4 linked regions of the Homo sapiens genome follow. The protein of the gene in region 3 interacts with the protein of the main gene of each other region in a pairwise test. Each region holds a gene or a part of one and is shown on either strand. Other genes may lie near its edges. The genes, in order: KCNJ6, MTIF3, SERTM1 and TMEM19.

Region 1 (6,361 bases), on a different chromosome or scaffold from region 3:
AAGTTCCACTATGAGACATTATTTACTTTGGAATGGCAAGATATTTGAAGAGGTCAAGAGTTTTCTAATCCAGTATTACTGCCCCATGGAAGGATTAACATGCATTACTGGTATTTACTGTTTCATTTTGATAATGTTTTCCCCTGCATGAATGTATGTGGCTGTGATATCTGAGTTAGGGAAATGGAAACGATGTAAGAGAACCGGAAGTATTATGGATCACCACTCTGTTTCTTCTGGTTCTTCCTCTCATAGTCTTCTCAGATATTTCTCCCTGACATTTCTCTTTTCTAGGTTGTAAGTTTGGCATTAAAGCTGTTCTTTTGCTTCTAGTGAAAAGGTATGGAACTTAGTTTCCAAGTTTTCTCCTTGAGGGAAGCAGAGGTTCTCAAACACTGCTTACAAATTACATGGTCTATTTTCAGGAAAACAATGACTATTAGTAGACTAATTCAACCTAAACTTACAGCATGTATCTAGCCTATGGACATTTAGGGGATTTAAAACAAAATGCAAATTGCTAGTCAACAGCAAGTGCCAGATATTAGAAGACAGCATCTAATTCTTCAGCATTCTTAGACACAATGTGGGTGTAATTGTCAAGATTAGAACATTGCTTTTGAGCATGGGTTGTGAAGTTGGCTTTTCTCCTTTGTGTCTACTTTAACAGATCAGCTAACAGAAATCAAACAATATGTATTTGCATCTCTTTTGTTAAGAATCATCTACACCTACTCCAAAAGTCAACATATCCCAACTAATTTATTTTAAAAAAATACACCACTAAAGAATGATTCAAGGGCACCAGGAAATATTGTCTCTACCAGGAATCTTTTCACCACTGGGACAAATCATTTCCTCTGCCTTACTCTATCCTGATTCACATTAGCTGTATTTCTTTGCTGCCAGACATTTATATCGGGCATGCATACCAAAGACTCCAGTGTGTTCACCCTACCAGTTTCCCTCCTCCTGGATATAGAGCTGAACTACAATTTGCAGCTGCTCTTGCAGTTAGGTATGACCATAGAATATGAATAGGAGTGATATACATTACTTCTAGGCCCGGATCATTAAAATCTTCTACATAATCATCTACTCTCCCTCTTTCCTTGTCTGCTAGTTGGATATCACCACTCAGCAGATCTTAGAAGCCATGTACTAAAGATGACAAAGTGTCCCTCAGCCTGGGTCCTTGTACGGCATCAACCAATTAGATTTATGTGAAAGAAATCTTCTATTTTGTTAAATTAGTGAGATTTAGATATTTTCTGTTTCAAGAACTTTCTAATTAATACAGTATACACAGGCTCATCAAGAACTGAAGTTAATGCCACATTGCAATAAATGAATAAAAACATCTGCTATTTTTAAAGTGCCTACTTTGTGCTGGACACTGCACAAAGAACTTTTTTTTTTTTTTTGGAGACAGAGTCTCCCTCTCACCCAGGCTGGAGTGCAGTGGTGTGATCTCAGCTCACTGCAACATCTGCCTCCTGGGTTCAAGCAATTCTTGTGCCTCAGCCTCCTGAGTAGCTGGGACTACAGGCATGTGCCTCCACACCTGGCTGATTTTTGTATTTTTAGTAGAGATGGGGTTTTGCCACTTTGGCCAGGCTGGTCTCAAGTCATCTCCTGGCCTCAAGGGATCCACCTGACTCGGCCTCCTAAAGTGCTGGGATTATAGGTGTAAGCCACCGCTCCTGGCCTGTGCTAAGAACTTTACTTACATTATCACATGAATCCTCATAACATCTCTGAGGTATATGTTGTTATTATTACTCTTATTGTTATTATTTTATGATAGGGAAAGCAAGGCATAAAGTTGATTAAGGTCACATAGTTAGCATAGTGGATTATATTATTGCCTCCAATTATTCTCTTCCCTCTCTGAAAGATTAGATGTCTCTACCTGTTGCTGCACGGCTTGCAGTGCTTCACTGTGGGAGAAATATACATCTCCTTCCCATTGATCATTGACACTGATGTGACATGTGAATTGTCCGGTCAATGGAATGTGAGTGGATAACTTGTGCCATGTCTGAGCAGAAATGTTAAGGGCCATTGCTTAACTTGGGAGTCTCCTTTTCCTCTGATACTGGGATAGAGTGTTCCAGACCAATTCTTGATCTTGAATTCCAGAATGAAGTCACAGGAGCAGAGCCACAGCTGACCAGCAGAGGCATAGCGCTCCAGAGAATAATACGCCTTTGTTTTGTAAGCCACTGAGATGCTGGGGTTGCTGTTACTGCCCCAAACTTGGCAAAAATGGACAGATACACCTAGACCTTGATGCAGATTCAGTTAGTAAGAAACACCGGAGCCTGTGCTCTTAATCACGGAGCAACACCGCCTACCAAGCACATTGTCAAACTTGCACAAGTTCCTGCTAGATGATACAAGAGAAATTTAAAGCATCATGAAAAAAATCAATTCTTATCCTGGATAAGAAAAAAGTAGATGTCTGTAAGTTTAAAGAGGAAACTGCCACAGGATTTAAACTTAATTTATAGATATGTCTCTCACATTGCATATAATACCTTCAGATTTAGTCCCACAGAACAGTTGTTGGCAAGGACATGGATCTTTTTAGCCACAGATGCACTTTCTGGTTCCTTTTGTAAGGATTTCATGTCGGAAACCACATCTCTGTGACTGGGAATAAGACCGGTGATACATGTTAGCCAAAATCTATTCACTAAAAGAATCACCAGTACTGTATGATTCCTGGTCCTAAGCACAGCCATACAGAAAAAATGAGAAGCATGAGACTCAAGGAGATAATGGGTTTAATCTGACTTGGATACATTTGTATAGACATAAATTAGTCACTTGGTTAAAATTTAGGGTTAACTTTACACATTGTAATTGGGAAAATTGATTGATGGCCTTACTGCATTCCATATAAAATCAGATCTGAATGACCATTTGAACATTGCACACTGCACAAAATCATTCTCTGAGGTTTTGTTTAAACAATGATTCAATTTAGTAACAAATAAATAAATGAATATTTACAACTGATTAGCAGGTATGATTAGATCAAAGCTATAGTTTAGAGAGGATACAGACTCTTCTTTTAATGATGAGACCGCTCTTTGAGGAAAATAATTTCACTATTATTTAATGTTATTAAAATGATAGCAAGTATATGTATATTCTAGTACTTTGCCAGAGGAAATTCAGAATACCATTAGAGCACTAACTGCAATTGTGATTATCTCTTCTTTTTATTGGAGCCTAATTATTTCTAGAAATAATTATTTAAAATGCACTTCAAAATGTATTTTTATCCTAAACAGCTACATTTTATTCTTCTATCTCTCCAAATACTTTCACTAAAATTAAAAAGAAAACTAACTCAACAAAAGTGTTTTGATGATTTTTCAACTTAACTGCCAATTTCCCCCTTACTGGTATTACCAAAGTTAATAATTTTGTAAAACTCCAGAGTGAATCAATTATCTTTTGGTACTTAAATGCCAATTATTGAAGATAAAATGAAGAAACAAGAAATGCCATCTCAATAAGCTATAAATCCAAATTCACTGAATTTAAACATCTTAATTCCACCAAACTTAAAGTTCTAATACAATGAACTTAGAAAAACCAACCTCACTTTGAAAAGTATTGTCAGTTTAAAGCTGGTAGCAATAAGTAACTGCCTTTTCCCCTCACTTTCTTCTTTCCTCCTACTCTGCCTATTTCTGGTCCATTTCCATTTCCATATTACTTACATATCATTTGATAAAGGAAGAACTGGTGAAAAAGAGAAGAGCTTCACCTTATCTGCCTGCCTTTCCATAAAGAGCATTTATCTTGTTTTCATTAAGGTTTACATGGTCAACATTAAACCCTTGAGAACAGCAACATTTTCTACCTGTGAAAATCAGTGAATGGGGTTAAGATTCCATAAGGGTATTTTATTTTTAATCTCCAATGAATTTTTTCTATAACTTCTTAAATAACTATTCTAATTTTTTTCCCTATAAAGTAGAGGTAGACTGAGATGATAGGGAGGAATATGAGACTGAGTTAAAAGCCCTTCTATATTCTCAAGGAAAATAGTTCATGTAAGTCCTATGTATTAAATAAAGACCTGTCTCACACAAAGGAAAACATACTAATGTTTAGGCAATATCTAGATGAGGTAACTATTGTTTAGGCAATACCTAGAAGAGGTATCAAAATGATTTTTTAAAATAGCAAAATGGAACCAAGTGAATGGGGGCGAATTTTCACAAGTTGCTCTCCTTAACAAATCTTACTTGAAATGAGTAAACCAATTATTTTGGAGTATGCTATTGACTGAAAAGGGCATAGTGACACTTTGTTAATCAATTAGCCACCTAGGAAGAAAGCAAGTCATAGTTCGGTGAATAAGCACTGAATATGTGAGCATGGAAACTACCAGAAGTAAAGATTATTGACTGAACAATTTCATATACCTAGATTATTGACACCACCCCCCTTTTTAATTTATTAGAGAAATTGAACTTTAGAACTCAGAAATACATTACTTTGTTTATCTAACAGTCTATATTCTCGTATAGCTTCATCCTCATAATGAACGTCTACTTCCCTTCTGCTGATAATGTCAGATGGAACAAGGCCAAGGAACAGCTGCGTTGTTTAATACTCCACGTGTCACTTCTTCTGTCTACTTTAGGTAGCAACCTTTTCATAAACTAAATTATGGATAAACTTGTCAATACCTATCAGGAACTGAAATGTAAGAAATAGTGTAATAACTCATCCTTTTGCTTAGGTTTGAAATAGATTGCTCTGTCTTCACTAGCAATCATTTGAAAAGACTGGAAGGTAGAAACACACTGCTTTAACCACATCCTGAGTGCTCAGCATGCAATATCTTTAGAAACAACATGTCACACTTGGAAAGCCCAGCAAGGAAAACCAGGATCATATCTTGTTTACCATTAAAAATAACAAACCAGAACCAGCTCAAGACCTCATGCACAAGTGCATCCACAAAACAGGAAAGCAGCCAGGGATATTGTTGAAGCTTTATCAACATTTCCAACCAGTTGCCAAACCTTGACTGGGCTCTGCAATTCAAAGTATACCTTGTAACACCTGGATGGCACTCTGACAGGCATTCTATTTCAAATATGACTGTCACCTTCCTGTATTATTTTTCCTCTTCATATCAGTGACAGTTGTGGTGGTGGGGGACCTACTACCAAGGATGAGAGCAGGGCAAAGACCAGCTTCTCGTAAAGTGAGAGCAGAAGGGCTTGATGGACTTACCTGTTTTCCCTGTATGAATGTTGAAATGGAACTTGAATGGTAATAAATCCTCCCCTCCTGCAGTTTCTTCCTTGTTTGTATTAAGAGAAGTGACTCCTCTCGGTTTCCTACGACTGCAACCTAGGAAATGTAGCCACCTTGCTCACACGCAGGCTTGAAGATGTGATCACTGGCTCTCATCTTGCTAACAAACTCTCTCTCCTTTTCGGAAGCTCACCAGTGTTGTTTTGATTCCTTCCAGTTCTAGACCGAGAGGAAACTATATCTCCACCCTCTTCAGTCCTAGGACCCTTAGAAAGAATTTGGCTGGGCCGGATACGGTGGCTCACGCCTGTAATCCCAGCACTCTGGGAGGCTGAGGCAGGCGGATCACAACGTCATGAGTTCGAGACCAGCCTGACCAACATGGTGAAACCCCGTCTCTACTAAAAATACAAAAATTAGCCAGGTGTTGTGGTGTGCGCCTGTAATCCCAGCTACTCAGGAGGCTGAGGTAGGAGAATCGCTTGAAACCGGGACGCAGAGGTTGCAGTGAGCCGAGATCGAGCCACTGCACTCTAGCCTGGGTGACACAGCGAGACTCCGTCTAAAAAAGAAAGAAAGAAATAACAAACTTGGTTGGCTGGCCTCTCGCTGACCAGGGTGCTTCCACAGCTCCCTTCTGCCATCTATGCCCAACAAAAAGTTAAAGAGAAGAGCGTGAGAGGGCAAGGGATGCATGCTTTTGAAAGCCAAAGGGACTCAGCTGAAACTAGCAACCCTCGTCAGAGGCGGATCGGGGTGTGTGTGTGTGTGTGTGTGTGTGTGTGTGTGTGTGTGTGTCTGTGCGCGCGCGCGTCCTTTTTCTCCCCCTGAGGACAGAATCCTGTCTCCACTCTCAGTTCAGCTCAGGTCTTTCCCTGTCCCAGTGTTCTTGATTCTGAATAGGTCCTCTGATGCACCGCCATGCATAAAATGGATGATTTGCAAGCTTCTTTGCCTCACGTAATTCCGTGGGTAATTTGATATCCAGATTCTGCACGAGCCAAAGACTCATTTATTTATAGAAAGTGATTGACCTCCAGCGACCAAAGGAGTGGGTACTGCTTGCTGG
Region 2 (5,572 bases), 9.2 Mb from region 3:
CCACTGTTCAGTTTTACTATAACATCAATCTTTTTTTAGTTTTTATTCCCACCTCAAGAGGCTGAGTTGAATACTATTAGGCGGGGAATGGAAAATTATATAGGCACCTAAGTTTCCTTTCTAGTTATGGTCAGTGTTTACACTGAGTATTCATGACAGACAATGCACCAATTTTTTTAATAGGCTATGTATGTCAAAAAGGATGTTCCTTTGTGGCAAAAACATGGACGGAACTTCTGAAACATGTGAGAGAAACCCATAAAGGTAAGGCAGGCATGAATGGCAGGCATGGTGTAAATGTTTGTCCCCACAGAACTGATTTAGTGCTTTTCAAGAGTGAAATGCTGTGTGCTTTAAAGTAAAAGGGTTTCTCTATGATATTTTGTGAAGTGCTGGGTATGATGTTGTTGGAAAGGTGAGCAGAGCTGTGCCAGGTCTCTGAGCCACCCCACCATGCACAATTAGCATGCTGAAGGCGGTGGCAGGTCTGTAGTGAAGAATTTCGGGAGGCACTGCTGTTCTGTGGGACCGCCTGGGAAACAGTACCCTGCATACTGGGGGACAAGGAAGGACACTGGTCTGCTTCATTTTCTGTACCTCCCCACAGTCACCTTCCTGAGAGCCCTGCCTCTTGGCAAGTGAACAATGACTGTGTGGCATTTAAGAACTTCAGAGAATTGAGACAAACTTCCTAGGTGATAAAAACTGGGGTTGTTTCCTTGGGAATTTCTGATTTGTATATAGTGATCAGGTTTCAGGCACTGAATGTTACTTATATATTAGGTATTAATTTTTTCTAAATGGTAATATCTGGGGAAATTTGTGAAATTTGTCTGTCTGTCCCACCAGAGGAAATACTATGTGAAGTATGCCGGAAAACATTTAAACGCAAAGATTACCTTAAGCAACACATGAAAACTCATGCCCCAGAAAGGGATGTATGTCGCTGTCCAAGAGAAGGCTGTGGAAGAACCTATACAACTGTGTTTAATCTCCAAAGCCATATCCTCTCCTTCCATGAGGAAAGCCGCCCTTTTGTGTGTGAACATGCTGGCTGTGGCAAAACATTTGCAATGAAAGTAAGCACTCACCCTCATACTCATGGTCCTATAGTCTATGCTTTCACAACATGGTTTTCATATTAATATTTCATTAATAACTTTCTCTTTCATTGTAGCAAAGTCTCACTAGGCATGCTGTTGTACATGATCCTGACAAGAAGAAAATGAAGCTCAAAGTAAGTTGAAACTACTTAGGCAAGCTTAGTTTTCAAGTGGAAATTGTTTAAGGCCAGAAGGAGTCTGTTTGGAATTCTTTTCACCTGCTTTACTGTTTGAGTCTGCACTACTGTTGAAGACTTTACTTCCTCATAAAGCAATGTTGTACACTATATCTGCTGGTACATATGACTATCGTAAAATTAACTCAGACAGTTTTGATTTTGAATTCTAATCGTGTGTCTTCCTTATTCCCAAAGGTCAAAAAATCTCGTGAAAAACGGAGTTTGGCCTCTCATCTCAGTGGATATATCCCTCCCAAAAGGAAACAAGGGCAAGGCTTATCTTTGTGTCAAAACGGAGAGTCACCCAACTGTGTGGAAGACAAGATGCTCTCGACAGTTGCAGTACTTACCCTTGGCTAAGAACTGCACTGCTTTGTTTAAAGGACTGCAGACCAAGGAGCGAGCTTTCTCTCAGAGCATGCTTTTCTTTATTAAAATTACTGATGCAGAACATTTGATTCCTTATCATTTCCATGGTCTTTGTTCAAAGTGTCTCTTTCCTGGGTCTCTTGAGTTTCTTTATATGCCTTCTCCTCATTTTTGCTGAAAGCACGAAGAACACACATTAAAGCTTTTCCTCCTTGAACAGCTTGTGGCCTAGATGAGAATGTAGCTATTCCAGGCATAGTCTGGAGTATTTGATGAAATATCTCCTCCTAAAAAAGGGAAACAGCCAAAGATTAATTTAAAATCAGAGGCTTTGGTGCTTTCTAATGTTCTGCTTGAACATTCACAAAAACTGGCACCCTTGAATTGCTGCTGTCGGTTAAGTGATTAGCTAATCAGTTCATACGTATCTGGTTAAGTTGACTGAAATCTGTACAATAACACCATGTAACTAAACTGACATGCTGAATGCTTCCTAATTTTAAATCTCCACTTCGTCATGGCACGAAGAGGCTACGTTTGGCTCAGCATTACCCTCTCCCACAAACAGAAAGCACTGGGTTTGGGCATTGGCAAAATACCTCCTCATCCCCAAGGTGTCAGCCGAGCAGTTCTCAGCACTCTCTATTGCCCCTAACAGAGTCTCTCTCAGTGACTGAAACAAATGGATACCTGGGCTCAAGAAATTCTGCATCAGCTGGGTTGCGACCTATGCTTAAGTGACTCTACTGTGGAGCTGGATTACTAAGGATACCCTTAGTGGATGATAAAGTTATCTAACTTTTAAAAAAAAAAAGCAAAATAGGTATTCCATAAACTTATGGGATTGGAAACTACACACTTTCTAGAAGACAGTCTACGTAATTAATGCCCCTATAAGTACAAAGAAGAAACAAAAAATCTATAAAGTTTCTAATTTTCCTGTTTAAGGGTTATTCTACAATTTATAAAACAATAGTATATTGCTTTTAAGGAATAATGTGTTCATATGGCAAAATACGCTGTAATGGAAACTATATCTACAGTATGCTTAGTTTTGAAAAGCAAACTAGAAAGCTGTTAACATCACTGGGTGGAAGAATTACCAGTCACTTTGTCTTTATATTTCAGATTTTCTACAATTTTTTTTTTTTTTTTTTTTTTTTGAGACGGAGTCTTGCTCTGTCACCCAGGCTGGAGTGCAGTGGCGCGATCTCGGCTCACTGCAAGCTCCGCCTCCCGGGTTCACGCCATTCTCCTGCCTCAGCTTCCCCAGTAGCTGGGACTACAGGTGCCCGCCACCACGCCTGGCTAATTTTTTGTATTTTTAGTAGAGACGGGGTTTCACCATGTTAGCCAGGTTGGTCTCAATCTCCTGATCTCGTGATCCGCCCACCTTGGCCTCCCAAAATGCTGGGATTACAGGCGTGAGCCACCGCGCCTGGCCTACAATTGTATTTTTAGATCAGAAGACCCAAAGCACAAGCAGTGGCTTGTACCTTCTTTACTTACCATTTCATTTTCTGACACGTCTACATTTTTTCCTTTCTTTATGGTAATCTGGACTAGGTGTTTTTTCTTAATCCACTGCTGAATCTGTTTAGTCTTTGTGTCCAAATCATGTTGTCCAATATTTGAAGACAAAATCAGTTCCTTTCTCAGGGTTGGTCCTGGTTTGAAACAGATAGGGTGCAAGGACTACTGACTAGTCCACTGTGAACCCTGAACTTCCCAACATGCCCATCATAAAATCCTAGGTTGCCACCTGACAATCTTCTCATCTGGCTTTCAGTTTCACAGACCAGTAAATGTCTTTTCAAATGGGGAAGATACACATAAAGGTACCAATTTTTTACCTGCCCTGGAAGGGTACTTAAAATCTGAAATGCTTCCATTTATTGTTAACCATCGTTTGTTGAAAGAACACCAAAAGATAGTCGTTTAAAGGATCAAGTTTGGCTTCATGGTGCACTTAACATCCTTATCTATCAGCTGTGGGTTGGCATCTGGGAGTGCACTACCCACTCCTTTTGAGATGCTCTCCTTGCTATAAGGGGTCAGCCAGACTGTTGGACAGGTAAGGGTCCCTACATCCTGTGTTCATGCCCTCTGTCTCCAGAAATCCTGCCTACTGGAAAATTATAGAGAAGGAACCGGCCACTCAATAAAGGTGTTGGGACAATTGAGAAGTTTATAGATGACAAAAAGTTAGGTCTCCCCAGGTATACTAATGTTCTACAGGTGAAAAATACAACTTTAAAACAAACAGAAGAAAAGACAGAATGGTTTGTGATCTCAGGATAGGGGATGGAACTCATTAAGAAAAAAAGGCAAAATGAAAAATCTAACTGGGATACGGTTTTTTCCATCATACACAACAGAGAACCCTATAAATCGGAGAAAAACCATCTACGTAGAAAAATAAAGGAATATAAACACGCAATTCACAGAAGAAAAAAGTGAAATACACATTAATTTCTCACCATTAAAATGACAAATGAGGGAGGAGGTAGAGAAACTGCATACACTGCTGCTGAGCAGTTTGATCCATTTAGGTTCATAGACCCTAGAGTATGCACCAGGGTTCATCATAAAGATTGGGGGCCAGGTGTGCTGGCTCACGCCTATAATCCCAGCACTTTGGGAGGCTGAAGCAGGCAGATCGTTGGAGCTCAGGAGTTCAAGACCTGAGCAACATAGCGAGACCCCATCTCTACAAAAAAAAAAAAAAAAAAAAAAGGCCAGGCATGGTGGTGTGCACCTGTGGTCCCAGCTGTGTGGGAGGCAGAGGTGGGAGGATTGCTGGATCCCAGGAGATGGAGGCTGCAGTGAGCCGAAATCACACCACAGCACTCCAGCCTGGGCAACAGAGCAAGACTGTTTTTTTTTTTTTTTTTTTTTTTTTTAAACACAGGGTCTCGCTCTGTCACCCAGGCTGAAGTGCAGTGGCATGATCATGGTTCTTCACTGCAGCCTTTGCCTCCTAGGCTCAAGTGATCCTCCCACCTCAGCCTCCCAAGTAGCTGGGATCACAGGTTTGCACCACTACACCTTGCTAATTTTAAAATTTTTTGTAGAGATGGGGTTTTGCTATATTGCCCAGGCTGGTATTGAATTCCTGAGCTCAAGCCATCCACCTGCCTTGGCCTCCCAAAGTGCTGGGATTACAGACGTGAGCCACCACGCCCAGTGACCTTTTTTTTTTTAAGTGACATAGTTTGACGTCATTATCCTCCCTGGTTGGTCTCTTCTGAATATTGTTTTCCAGTCAACATCCTTGTTAAATGTGGCATTACAAAACTGAGCCGCAGATAACATGTGGTTTTCTGAAGGCACACAACCTCACGATGCAGTGCTGGGAGCAGTCATCTGATGCCTGTCCCCGTGCGCCATCCATTGAACTTTCATAATGATTGGCACTTTTTAGGAACTATGAAAAACAAACATCTTTGCTTAATATCCAATTCCTGACTTCTGTGAGGCTTAAATGACAAGTGCCTCGTCAAGTGACTGGTTGTATATCTAAGAGTGTTGCTACTGATATTGCAACACAATGCTTTGGCATGGGAGATGCTCTGTGAATCACTTCAGAGTCGAAAAGGTGCTTCCAGGCTAGGCGCAGTGGATCACGCCTGTAATCCCAGCACTTTGGGAGGCCGAGGAGGGCAGATCACTTAAGGCCAGGAGTTCAAGACCAGCCTGGCCAACATGGTGAAACCCCCTCTCTATTAAAAATACAAAAATTAGCCGGGCGTGGTGGCGGGCGCCTGTAATCCCAGCCACTGGGGAGGCTAAGGCAGGAGAATCGCTTGAGCCTGGGAGGCGAAGGTTGCAGTGAGCACACATCGCACCACTGCACTCCAGCCTGGGCGGCAGGCAGAGACTCATCTCAAAAAAATAAAAAGGTGCTTCCAGATAATTAAC
Region 3 (6,361 bases):
GCCTGCCAATGCTCTCTGTTTCTCTCACAGGCGGCACAGCGAACTCAAAAGTCTGGTTAATAAAGAAAATGTCTACATGTTCCTCATAACATGGAACAAAATGATATGGCAGGCTATCAAGTGTGGGTGGAAATCAAGTCTTCAGCAGCCTGTTGTCATTTTAGATAACGATTCAAGACCAGAGCCTGTCAAAGACAATATGGAAGCAATAGACAAGTGTAGGCTCAAATTCTCCCAGAGCGTATTTCAATTTGAAAATGTAAGAAGGTGAAACTGAAAAATAATTAGGAATTATTTGTGGAAAACAGACTGCCAAAGTAGTGACCTATAGAAGATAGTTACACATTCTTTTAAAAATATAAATAAATATGTTTTCACTCAAGGAAATTATGGATAATCTTTAGTACAAGATTTAACTGACTTTGACAGTCCTTTATCAAGGCTGAGCTCTTCACCTTACTTTTAGATGATGTGAGCTCTGCATTTTTAATTCATTTGTAGAAATAGCCTACACTTTCACCCATTATTCACTATTTTTACATCTAGTATCAGTTCTCTTTCGTTTCAATGGTTTGAGCTGGGATGCAGAGACACATCATGGCAGAAGAATGATGAGAGGTACAGGAGAGAGGAAAGAGGTAGTGAGGGCATCCCCAAGTCATTGAGGAGTAGCAGTCTGTCTTCAGAGCATGATTGGCAGAGGAAGGCAAACCCAGGATGCTTGTGGAGGAGAAAGAATGTGCAGACAAATCAGTTTGAGAAAAAAGAACCAGAGTAACATAAATGATGGCTGCTAGTATTTATCAAATAAAAGCATGTACCAATTTTGGATGTGTGTCTGTATATGTATGTGTGTTTTCTTTAATCGCCACAACTCATTAAGTCAGTTAGTATTATCTCCCATCATCTTTTTTAGCAAATGAGAAAATTAAAGCTCAGAGAATTTTTTTTTTTGACAGAGTCTCGCTCTGTCGCCCAGGCTGGAGTGCAGTGGTGCGATCTCAGCTCACCGCAACATCTGCCTCCTGGGTTCAAGCGATTCTCATGCCTCAGCCTCCCCAGTATCTGGGAGTAGAGGCACCCACCACCACGTCCGGCTAATTTTTGTATTTTAGTAGAGACGGGGTTTCACCATGTTGCCCAGGGTGGTCTCAAACTCCTGAGCTCAGGAAATATGTCTGCCTCAGCCTCCCAAAGTGCTGGGATTACAGGCGTAAGCCACTGCGCCCCACAAGCTCAGAGAATTTAAAGGCTTGTCCAAGCTCACCCAACCACTTAGAGGCAGGGCTGGAATTCAAACTACATCTCTCCGTCTCCAAATTGTATGTTCATTCCATTCCTTCTCTCTGGGGAGACTGTGGGTTGAGGAGGAATGTATTTGAGACTTGTAGTCACTAGTGCTGTTCACGAAATATTTCTGATGTCCCTTCTCGTAGGCCTGTCGTAGGATTTCATGTTCCCACTCCCTCTGAATTTAGGGTGACTGTATGACTTATTTTGACCAATGAAATGTATGAAAGGTGACATGTCCCTTCTGGATAGAAAATGTAAGACCTAGTGTGAGACTTGCCACACCTCTTCCCTCTGCTGCAGTTATTGTGTAATGGTGTAAGTACCTGCCAATGTCTATCAGTCTGCATCCTTGAGTGACCACAGTGAGTATCTTCACCCCTTGCTGGCCCCATTGACACTTATGTCAACATTAATAAACTTTTGTTGTTTTAAGCCACTGAGATTTGGGGCTTATTTGTTACTGTAGCATCATTCTCCTTCTACTAACTAACATAAGGTCTCACTATACTTTGATGGCTGAGTTTATTATGGGTCTGTAAGAATTTGACCATAAATAAGTCAAATTATGAATAATTGAGAGTTGTATGAATTGTGTATGTAATATATTAAAACTCTATTTTGGCACTGGTGAGAAAGAAGGTTTTCAAGGCTGTTTTGGTTAGCTTTAATTTCATAGAAGTGTTAGGTTTAAGGGCATGAGATTTAGCTACTGGTAGTGCCAAAGACATGTTCCTTAACAAGCTCAAATATGATGAGCTGCTACTGTATAAGGATAATCCTGACCAGCTGTCACTTAAACAGGCCAAATGGTTTCAAATGGGAACAGGTGAGAGGCAATAAGAATATTAAGACTAACTCATGACTCCTAGTGGAAAAAAAAACTCATCGTACAAGGGTCAGTGGTATTGTTTTTGGTTAAGAAAAACTAGCTACTTGGGAGGCTGAGGCAGGAGAATCATTTGAACCCAGGAGGCAGAGATTGCAGTGAGCAGAGATCATGCCATTGCACTCCAGCCTGGGAGACAGTGTGAGACTCCATCTCAACAAATAAATAAAGAAAGAAAGAAGAAAAAGAAAAACTATAGTATTTGCTGCATTCAATCATACATTGAACAAATATTTCTTAACAATGTACAGGAAGGGGTAGAATATTATCATTATGTGCATGAGTCTAATGCATCTATAATTTGTATAGTTGCCAGCTACAGTGAGAAATCTAAGACTTCTCTTATATGGTCTGTCCCTTATGATCTGGCCACAGGCTACTTTTCCAGTCTCGTTTTTACCATTGTACCTAAGATTTGCGTTCCAGGCATAACATGCTGTTTTCAATTCTCCAGTTAAAAAAATACTTATGTTCAATCCTTATATGTGTACATATCCTCTCCCTAACTTGAACCCAAATCCAATTTATTCACTGCAGGTCTCTACTCAAGCCATCCATCCTCTGTCTCATCTGCTTATTATTCACCTAATAGAAATCCCTACCTACTTTCTCTATGCAAATTTCTGGCTCCCTCCTCTGCATTCTCAGCATACTTTCTGTACCTTTCTACACTAGCATTTCTCACATTTTATTATACTTACTACATTTATTTACCTATCTGCTTTAACAAACTGGGAAGTCCTAGAATAAAGAAATAACAATTCACCTATCTTATATCCACAGACTAGTACAGAATGTGGCATAAGGATGATCAATCAGCATTTGTTAGATGGCTGCATGAATGAAAGAATAAGGGAATAAAGAAACTTGAAGCTTCTTGGAGAGATAGCTCATGTTTATTCTGTCTTTACAGGCAAAAGAATGTTTATTTAACAAATGAATAAATGATCTTGTGTAAAATCATAAAGATTACTCAAAGGGGGTAAGCATCAACAGTAAAGAATAATGATGATGAATGCTCTCTAAATTTTAGAAGTGTTTCAATTATGGCAATAAAATTAATAGTTTCTGGTTCCAGGGCAAACTATGCCCATACTTTTAAAAATCAACCAACTGTGTCTTTCAACAATGTCTAAGAAAGCTAAGATTTTATTTGGTCAACTGTTCACCAGGATAATTGAGGAAAGGATGGAGGAGTGTGCTGGAAATACTGAAATACATTCTTGTGAACAAGCTGGAGGGTTGTAACAAATGTATTCTGAAGGGCACAATAAAAATCAAGAGAGTTTACCATAGTGAGACTATGAAGCTCTGGCTGAATATGACCCAGAATGCATTTTTAAAAGAATTTCTTAAACTCCATGATAATTCCATCCTTTGAAAATCACAAATCCTTTATCATCACAACCTATGACACTGTGCTCATCTGTGGAAATAAAAAGGGTCAAGGAAAATCCCCACTTCATGATCATTGTAGGGGAAGCTTATTATAATTCACTACATTCAGGAATATCACATACCATAGGATTGTTAGCTACTCCATCTCAATGCTAAACCAAACCAAACCAAAATGAAACAAAAACAGCTTGAAAAATTCAATAGCAAATCAGCACAGAAAAAGAAAATGTTTACATTTTTATCAAATGTTCAATTTGACTACAAAGTGCTACTTTGGAGATCTGGGCTACTCAAAGTAGCCACCTGGCTCCCTCAGTGGCATGTTGGTTACAGGTCCCTGTGAGATGAGGAAACTGCAATAAATACAGTGCTTCCTTCATCAAGAAAGTCTTGCTACAAAAGAAGAAAAAGAAAGAAAGGAAATAGTTAAACTAAAAAGTATGCCTAGTACCTTATTTGATTTATATTCTGGCACGAGTTCTGTATCTCATGACGAATAAGTAATAATTCAAATGGGCGCTGGTGCATGGACTGTGCTTCGAGTAGTACTTGACGCAGATCATAGCCATGGTGATGTGAGCAGCAATCTCCTTACCAGCACTATGCCAGGGAACTAATCCAAAAACCTCAGCTTCTTAGGAAAATAATAAGAGGAGTGAAAACAGATGAGCACAAGAGAAGCAAATATTCTCTTTTTTCATTCATCGTACAACTAACTGCAAATATATAGCAGGTACTAGGTACCTGATTTATTCTTTTGTTTTCCTTTATAGTCCCTCTAAATCTTAACTTTCCCCTATTAAAAAACAGGAGAATCGCTTGAACCGGGAGGCGGAGGTTATAGTGAGCAGAGATCGCACCACTGCACTCCAGCCTGGCAACAGAGCGAGACTCCGTCTCAAAACCAGAAACAAACAAACAAAACGACAACAACAACAACAAAGTAAAACCATTGAAAACTAAAAACCACACAAGCAGCAATAACAACAAAAGAAAAAAATTTTCATAGAATCAGAGAGCTACAAGTCTTTAGCAATCAGGAAAATGACACCCCCAAAAGTTAAGTGAAGTTTGAAGGTCATTGTTTATATGTCACTTGTTTTTGAAAAAGGATATGTAGTAGGAACTCCAGCTAGTGAAAGAGACCACAAATTGAGGGCCTAGCACCCCCTTTCCAACCCTAAATCCACTCTATACTCAGAGCTGAGCTGAGTGGCTAACAAGAGGAAGGCAGACAAAAAAGAAGTTAATTTTTTTTAATCCAGAGGCTTTTCATCATATGAATCAAAATATGTGCCAAGCAGGGAGTTCAGTGGAAAAATGTAAGGCCAAAACCGACAGGGATAATAAGGCGACACTTGAACAGACTGAAAGATCTTAGAAACTCATTCCATTCAACTAGACCCATTTTGTTGGCGAGGAGTCTTTCTGAAGGTCTGAGACTAGCATCCAAGCTCACCAAAGACTTTCCCATGAGTAGTTGTTAGAACGACAGTTTTGCCTTGAGGAGAATGGCAGAGGGTACAGATTGAGTATCCCTTATCCCTTATCCAAAATGCTCTGGAATCAGTGTTTCTGATTTTGAATTTTTTTTTGGATTTTGGAATATTTGAATATACATGAGATATCTTGGGGATGGGACTCAAGCCTAAACACAAAATTCATTTATGTTTCATATACACCTTATACACATAGGCTGAAGGTAATTTTATACAATATGTTTAATATTTTTTTTTGCATGAAACAAAGTTGTGTGCGTTGAACCATCAGAAAGCAAAAATGTCACTATCTTAGCCACCCATGTGAACAATTTGTGGTTATTTGGTATCACCATAATTCCTGACTGAATTTATATGCTACTCATAGGAATTATTTTCTTACACTTATTCGCACACAAATACTTAACACTAAAAGATATGACATCATTAATACACAGAAAAAAATGTGTTCAAGGGTAACTAAGCAGGTCAGGTGCGGTGGGTCACACCTGTAATCCCAGCACTTTGGGAGGCCAAGGCGGGTGGACCACTTGAAGTCAGGAGTTCAAGACCAGCTGGCCAGCATGGTGAAACCCCATCTCTACTAAAAATACAAAAATTAGCCAGGTGTGGTGGCAGGCACCTGTGATCCCAGCTACTCAGGAGGCTGAGACAGGAGAATCGCTTGAACGTGGGAGACAGGTGTTGCAGTGAGCCGAGATTGCGCCACTGCACTGTCCAGCCTGGGTGACAGAGCAAGACTCCATCTCAAAAACAAAAAACAAACAAAAACAAAACAAAACAAACAAACAAAAAAATTGACTAAGCAGTACAGTTGCATCTCAAGAATACTTGTATCAGCTGTTCAACAACACCAACAACAAACAGCAGGCTTTCAGTCTCAACCTGCTGTGCTGCCTTTTGATGAAAAGGGTACTGTGCACTGTGGCATCATGCCAATGCTCAAAAAGTTTAGATTTTGGGACATTTCAGACTTTGGATTTTTGGATTAGGGATGCTCAACATGCATTAGTAAATTTTTTTTTTGAGCCTGGCACCATTTATATGGGTGTGTCAAATTGAACACATAAATTATGTCTTTATGATATCTTATGTCTTTATGATCTGTGTACTTTTCTATATGAATGTTAACTGCTAATAAAATTCTTTTGAGGAGAAGAGTATTATGTGCCAGGCATAGGGAAGAATGGGTCACAGTGAGGAAGGTCTACTGCTTGTTGCATGAACTATTTGAATGCTTCTCTTTTCACACAAACCAGGTAGCATTATAGGATAACAGTGTAAA
Region 4 (6,361 bases), on a different chromosome or scaffold from region 3:
AAGCATGTCCTTAACTTACTTTCAGTAGTAACTGATAGTTCTAAAGTCAGGTAGCAAAAATATAATATGCATGTTTCTAAAAATTATCCTAGTGCTATAACATGCCACTTGATCTGCTTGAGCATAAAGGAAATCTGCTAGATTATAAACTCCTTGAGGACAAAGAGTATCTTATGCTTCTGTGTCCCATGTTTCTTTGAATAGTGCTAGATACATAATAGATGATTAGGAATAGATGTAGTCTGATTTTTAAAAACCTTTGCTTTTTTCCTAATTATTTCATTCTATGAACTGTTTATCTTTTCTTCTTTTTTGTAAAAAAAAAAATTATGGCCAGGTATGGTGGCTCACACCTGTAATCCCAAAACTTAGGGAGGCCAAAGCAGGCAGATCACTTGAGCCCAGGAGTTTGAGACCAGCCTAGGCAACGTGGTGAAACCTCGTCTCTACTAAAAATACAAATATTAGCCAGGCATGGTGACAGGTGCCTGTAATCCCAGGTACTTGGGAGGCTGAGGCAGGAGAACCGCTTGAACCCAGGAGGCAGAGGCTGCAGTGAGCTGAGATCATGCTGCTGCACTCAAGCCTGGGTGACAGAGCGAGACCCTGTCCCAAAAAAAAAATTTTTTTTTAGAGGCAGGGTCTCGCTCTATCACCCAGGCTGTAGTGCAGTGATGCAACCATAGCTTAGTGCAGCCTTGAATTCCTGGGCTCAAGCAGTTCGCCTGCCTCAGCTTCCTGGGTAGTAGCGACTACAGGCACGCGCCGCCACACCCAGCTTTTCTTACTGTTTGGAACTTTTTGTTTCCTTAAGGATAAAAAAAAATCTAATGCTGATTTAAAGTATATCATAGTAGTTGGGAATATTATCCTAGAGTATGACTGCAAGTCACTTAAACTCTCAGTGTTGTACTTGTCCTGTCTATAAAATGTGAAGGAATAATGGTATCTATAGCAATGAATTATCATGAAGTGTTATCCATGTAAAATGCTTAGCACAGTACTTGGCATACAAATATTTTATAGATGTTAGTTATTATTACTGTTTTCCTTCCACTACTGCTATTCACAGTGATATAGTTTGACCATGTCTCCACACAAATCTCATCTTGAATTGTAGCTCCCATAATTCCCACATGTCAAGGGAGGGACCTGGTAGGAGGTAATTGAATCATGGGACAGGTCTTTCCCGTGCTGTTCTCGTGATAGTGAATAAGTCTCACGAGAGCTGATGGTTTTGTAAAGGGGAGTTCACCTACACAAGCCCCCTTGCCTGCCGCTATGTAAGATGTGACTTTGCTCCTCATTTGCCTTTGGCCATGATTGTGAGGCCTCCCCAGCCATGTGGAACTGTGAGCCAGTTGAACCTCTTTTCTTTATAAATTACCCAGTTTCAGGTTTGTTTTTATTAGCAGCGTGACAGCAGACTAATACACACAGTTATAAGAAATTTTACTTTGCTACATCATGACTTTAGTGTGTCTAGGATTTAGAAGTAAGAGTTACAGAACTTCCTCAGGATCTGGGTATTTAGAACCATTCATGACAGAAACATATACCTCAGTGTTAAGAGGATTAGGCAGGGGTTCAGTCACAGTCAGTCTCTAAGCTGCACACTGAAGTGGAGGGCTCTGGTCTCTTGGAGAGAGAGCGAGCATTGCCAGAATAAGGAGAGGGTCACATGAGGGGGATTTGTGGCAAAGTGTTTGTGGAAGAGCACAGCAAGAGGGGGTGTTGTCAGGAAAGGCCACTGGTGGTGCTCTGTGTGGTTTCACAAGGGTGGCCTGACCTCTTTTTGGTCACTATACTTTGGGTCTGGTTTCAGTCTTTCTGAAGTAGAAGCCTCACTCTGTCATGTACCCAGAGTTGATTAGAGCCTAGAAAACTGGTTGAGTGTTGCTCATTGTCATAAAGGATTGCTATATGAGCCAGAATGCCACTTCATTAATCAGATAGAAGAACTACCAGGCAGAAGAACACAAACATCACTGTTCAGGCATGCCCTATTCTTGTAGTCAGGCCACTTGAGAAGTCAGATTATAATTAGAAGGCTGCTTTGGTGAGTACAAAGTCTGAGAAACAGTTATGCAAATCCACAAATCAAAGGTTCCCCTCCCTTGGACATGGTTCAAGAAGTCTGCCAACCTCTGGTTCTTTTGGCCTTCACTTTCTACATTTTGGGCTAGCCAAGTAAATTATTATAGAATATGTATGAAGCAATAGGTGAGCTTTGAGTTTATTAAATTACTATGAAATTCCAGTCCTGCCTTTCTCTTTTATGCCTCCTGGAGATTACCCAGGTCACCCTGGTTGGAATTTGGGGTATAACTCTACTCCCATTGTCAGAAATTTGTAGACAGTGTCATTTTACTCCCCCAATGCTATCTGTTAGGTACAGAATTTACCTGTTTTAGGCTCACAAGGCAACCATAGTCCTCAAGTCTTCAAATTATTTGGGAGTGCCCTATTGTCATATATATGAACCCCTTATCAATGATATTTAGAGATCTGCAGGATGGAGAGGTAGAAAAGGTATGAACAGGAGATAGCAGTTACTAATCTAAAATGTAGACATAGGTAGGAGTTGCCAAAAGTTCCAAGCGATCTTTACACTGCATGAAAGAAACCATTCCCTCAAAGCTTGTCTTGTTCATTTCCTCAATCTGAAGCTGTCACCAACATGAACATTAATTGCTTCATGTGGTATTTTAAGGTGGCTGAAGTAAAAAGGATATAGATGCCATTTGTAACATCTCAGTGTAGGTTGTGTAGGGCTCTTCTACCTTGGGTTTGTTTAGAGACGGTGGAACAAATTGTTAACAGTGAATATTCATGAAGAGGAGGAGGGGAGACACTTTGACTTTCAGTTTGTATACTTCCATGTGTTTTGACTTTCCCCTTCAGTAGTTGCATACAACTTTTGTAATGTTTTAAAAATCAGTTGAAAAAACTTAAAGGTTGGATAACAATATTGTAATATTTATCATTATTATTGTTGAGCTTTTGCCACTGGAACTGTTGCTGTTATTAGTATCCATGATATTAGGTAACACTTATTAAGGACCTCTTACATCCTGGATAATATAATAAGCATATTACAAAAATTATCCCTGACTTTTTACAGCAAGCCGGTAAAGTCAGAATTCTGATTATTCTCATTTCACCAATGCAAAATTGAGACTTAAGGAGGTTAGGTAACTTATCCTAATCTTGAAGAGGTAAGTGAAGGAGCCACAGTTTGAACTCTAGACTGTTCAACTCCAGAGCTGAAGCACTTTGTTATTATTAATACTTTATATCAAGTTACCCTGTTTCTGTACTCTCGATTAAAAGGTACCAAAGTTAAATACCAGTAATTGAGTATCTCTGGAAGGGTCAATGAGTAACTATCTCATTGGTTATGATATCTGAACTTTGAGCTAAGCAATGGAAAGGGTTATTATAGAAAAAGAAGGCCAGGTGCTGTGGCTCACTCCTGCAATCCCAGCACTTTAGGAGGCCAATGCTGGGCAGATTGCTTGAGCCCAGGAGTTTGAGACCAGCCTGGGCAATATAGTGAGACCCCATCTCTATTTCTAATTTTTTTAAATTAAGATAATTTTAAAAATATTATCTAAAATATTATCTTACATTCATATGGCATTGCTTGAAAGGAGATTAAAATATGGTAAAAAATGTGTACTCAAAATGGCATTCAGTTTACTGCTTGCTAAGAATTTAATTGGTAAAATGCAAATTGCTAGAAATGTACATTTCAGGTTATAATATAAAAATAATGGAAAAAATCCATTCTTTTTTCACAGCATTGATGTATGAATTGAATATAATTCTGTGTTTATATATGTTTCTTTCAGGGCTAGTCGTTGGATTTATCCTAACCATTGCAAATTTCAGCTTTTTTACCTCTTTGCTGATGTTTTTCTTGTCTTCTTCGAAACTCACTAAATGGAAGGGAGAAGTGAAGAAGCGTCTAGATTCAGAATATAAGGAAGGTAAAATTATGTTTGATATCATTCAAAATAGTAAACTTCATTTAATCCTAACATAAGGTTTTTTTTTGTTTTTGTTTTTGTTTTTTTTTTTGAGACGGAGTCTTGCTCTGTTGCCCAGGCTGGAGTGCACTGGCGCAATCTCGGCTCGCTGTAAGCTCCGCCTCCCGGGTTCACACCATTCTCCTGGCTCAGCTTCCTGAGTAGCTGGGACTACAGGCGCCTGCAACCATGCCTGGCTAATTTTTTTGTATTTTTAGTAGAGACGGGGTTTCACCGTATTAGCCAGGATGGTCGCAATCTCCTGACCTCGTGATCCGCCTGCCTCGGCCTCCCAAAGTGCTGGGATTACAAGCGTGAGCCACTGCGCCCAGCCAACATAAGCTTTTAATCAGAATGTTGTTTAAACTGTCAAAACACATCAATTTTATATGAGAATTCCTTTAGTAGCCAAATTGAGTTTATAATTTATTTCACAACAATGGGAAATGACAGCAGAATTTTAGAAGCACTAGAGTCTATCATGATTTTTCCAGATTTGTTAATAACAGTATAAAATCTGGGCAAATGTACCATAACACTTTTACTGTTTTTAAATTTTTTTGTTGTTTTTCTTTTCTTAAACTTTAAAACATAAACACCTATAACTGCATGGTTTTTCTTCTAAGGAGGAATCATTTGTTTGTCCTTTTCATCTGTTTGTTTCCAGGTGGGCAAAGGAATTGGGTTCAGGTGTTCTGTAATGGAGCTGTACCCACAGAACTGGCCCTGCTGTACATGATAGAAAATGGCCCCGGGGAAATCCCAGTCGATTTTTCCAAGCAGTACTCCGCTTCCTGGATGTGTTTGTCTCTCTTGGCTGCACTGGCCTGCTCTGCTGGAGACACATGGGCTTCAGAAGTTGGCCCAGTTCTGAGTAAAAGTTCTCCAAGACTGATAACAACCTGGGAGAAAGTTCCAGTTGGTGAGTTTTTTCTTCTTTTTGACCCATTGGTAGACACAGTTGGTGAGTCTTGATTTGAGATTCTTTAAAAAAACCAAAAAACCTCTTGATGTAATGTATTTTAGAGCCTTTTAAGAACTTTATTTAGTCTCTTTAAATAATAATTGGAAAATTTCTGTCGACTATTAAATTGGTAATAATAAATAATATTTGCAGGAAATGTTAGCAAGACCTAGATAAGCAATACAGGAACATAGAGATTGATTTGCAAACATATCAGTAGGGAAGGAAAAGAGAGGGAACAATAGAATATTTATTGAGGGCCTGTTAGGATATCAGTGCTTTAAGATATATCTCAATTCTCCATTATCAACATTATCAACAACTACATAGGTTGAGCATCTCAAATCTGAAAATCCAAAATCCAAAATGCTCCAAAATCTCAAACTTTTTGAACACTGACATGATGCTCACAGGAAATGTTCATTGGAACATTTCAGATTTACGATTTTCAGATTCGGGATGTTCAACTGTTAAGTCTATATAATGCAAATATTCCAAACTCTGAAAAAATTTGAAATCCAAAACACTTCTGGTCTCAAGCAATTCAAGTAAAGAGAATACTCAACCTATACTGCTTCTTTTTGTCCTCTGATGCTTCTCTTCCTCTTCGTCCCCTTCTTTTCTTTCTACCCATCCTATCCCCCATCATCACCTTCTCCTCCTTTTTTTTCTCCTCTTCTTCATCATCATTGTAACAGCTAGCATATTTTAGATACCTACTACAGAGCACTATTCTAACTGCTTTACACGGATTGCCACTTAGTACTCCTAATAATCATATAAATTGGTTCTTTTATTATTTATATCTTATAAAGAAACTAAAGCACAAAGAAGTTAGATAAATTAACTACAGTCACATGGCTTAAGAGTAGCAGAATTGGGCCTGGCAAGGTGGCTCATGCCTGTCATCCCAACTACTAGAGAGGCTGAGATGGGAGGATCACTTGAGCCTGGAGTTGGAGGCTGCAGTAGGCTATGATCACACCATTGTACTCTAGCCTGGTTGATAGAGCAAAACCTTGTCTCTGAAAAGAGAGAGAGAGAGAGAGAGAGAGAGAGAGAGAGAGAGAGAGAGAGAGAGAGAAGCAGAACCAAGATTGAAACCAGGCAGTCTGGCTTCATTGAACCATTCTGCTTCATTGCTTAAAATGTCAAGAGTTACCGAGGAGAAAATACTGTTTTCTAAAAAGCTACAGTCTTTAGATTGCATTAAAGAGAATGCTTTCTTTAAATTAGTCTTGATTAGATAGGTACCTTGCTGTCCTTGCCTTTATGTGTTTGCTGATTATTAACCGGATGATTTTCTGCATGTTTCTTCTTCAGGTACCAATGGAGGAGTTACAGTGGTGGGCCTTGTCTCCAGTCT

The links.
Region 1: the proteins of SERTM1 (region 3) and KCNJ6 interact in binary tests that used the Homo sapiens proteins (3 or more experiments, as listed by UniProt).
Region 2: the proteins of SERTM1 (region 3) and MTIF3 interact in binary tests that used the Homo sapiens proteins (3 or more experiments, as listed by UniProt).
Region 4: the proteins of SERTM1 (region 3) and TMEM19 interact in binary tests that used the Homo sapiens proteins (3 or more experiments, as listed by UniProt).

Annotation. Positions count from the first base shown.
Region 1 is NC_000021.9:37,907,961-37,914,321, forward strand, and holds part of KCNJ6 (G protein-activated inward rectifier potassium channel 2), read right to left. Parts: intron 1-6,361. UniProt on the Homo sapiens protein: Inward rectifier potassium channels are characterized by a greater tendency to allow potassium to flow into the cell rather than out of it.
Region 2 is NC_000013.11:27,433,956-27,439,527, forward strand, and holds the end of MTIF3 (translation initiation factor IF-3, mitochondrial), read right to left. Parts: intron 3,319-5,572; coding exon 3,161-3,318; intron 1,939-3,160; coding exon 1,720-1,938; 3' UTR 1,688-1,719; downstream 1-1,687. Other genes in the region: GTF3A (transcription factor IIIA), read left to right, coding at 184-264, 850-1,079, 1,178-1,237, 1,478-1,642. UniProt on the Homo sapiens protein: IF-3 binds to the 28S ribosomal subunit and shifts the equilibrium between 55S ribosomes and their 39S and 28S subunits in favor of the free subunits, thus enhancing the availability of 28S subunits on which protein synthesis initiation begins.
Region 3 is NC_000013.11:36,678,888-36,685,248, reverse strand, and holds part of SERTM1 (serine-rich and transmembrane domain-containing protein 1), read right to left. Parts: intron 3,055-6,361; exon of another isoform or gene 2,963-3,054; intron 1-2,962.
Region 4 is NC_000012.12:71,692,582-71,698,942, forward strand, and holds part of TMEM19 (transmembrane protein 19), read left to right. Parts: intron 1-3,854; coding exon 3,855-3,992; intron 3,993-4,698; coding exon 4,699-4,953; intron 4,954-6,318; coding exon 6,319-6,361.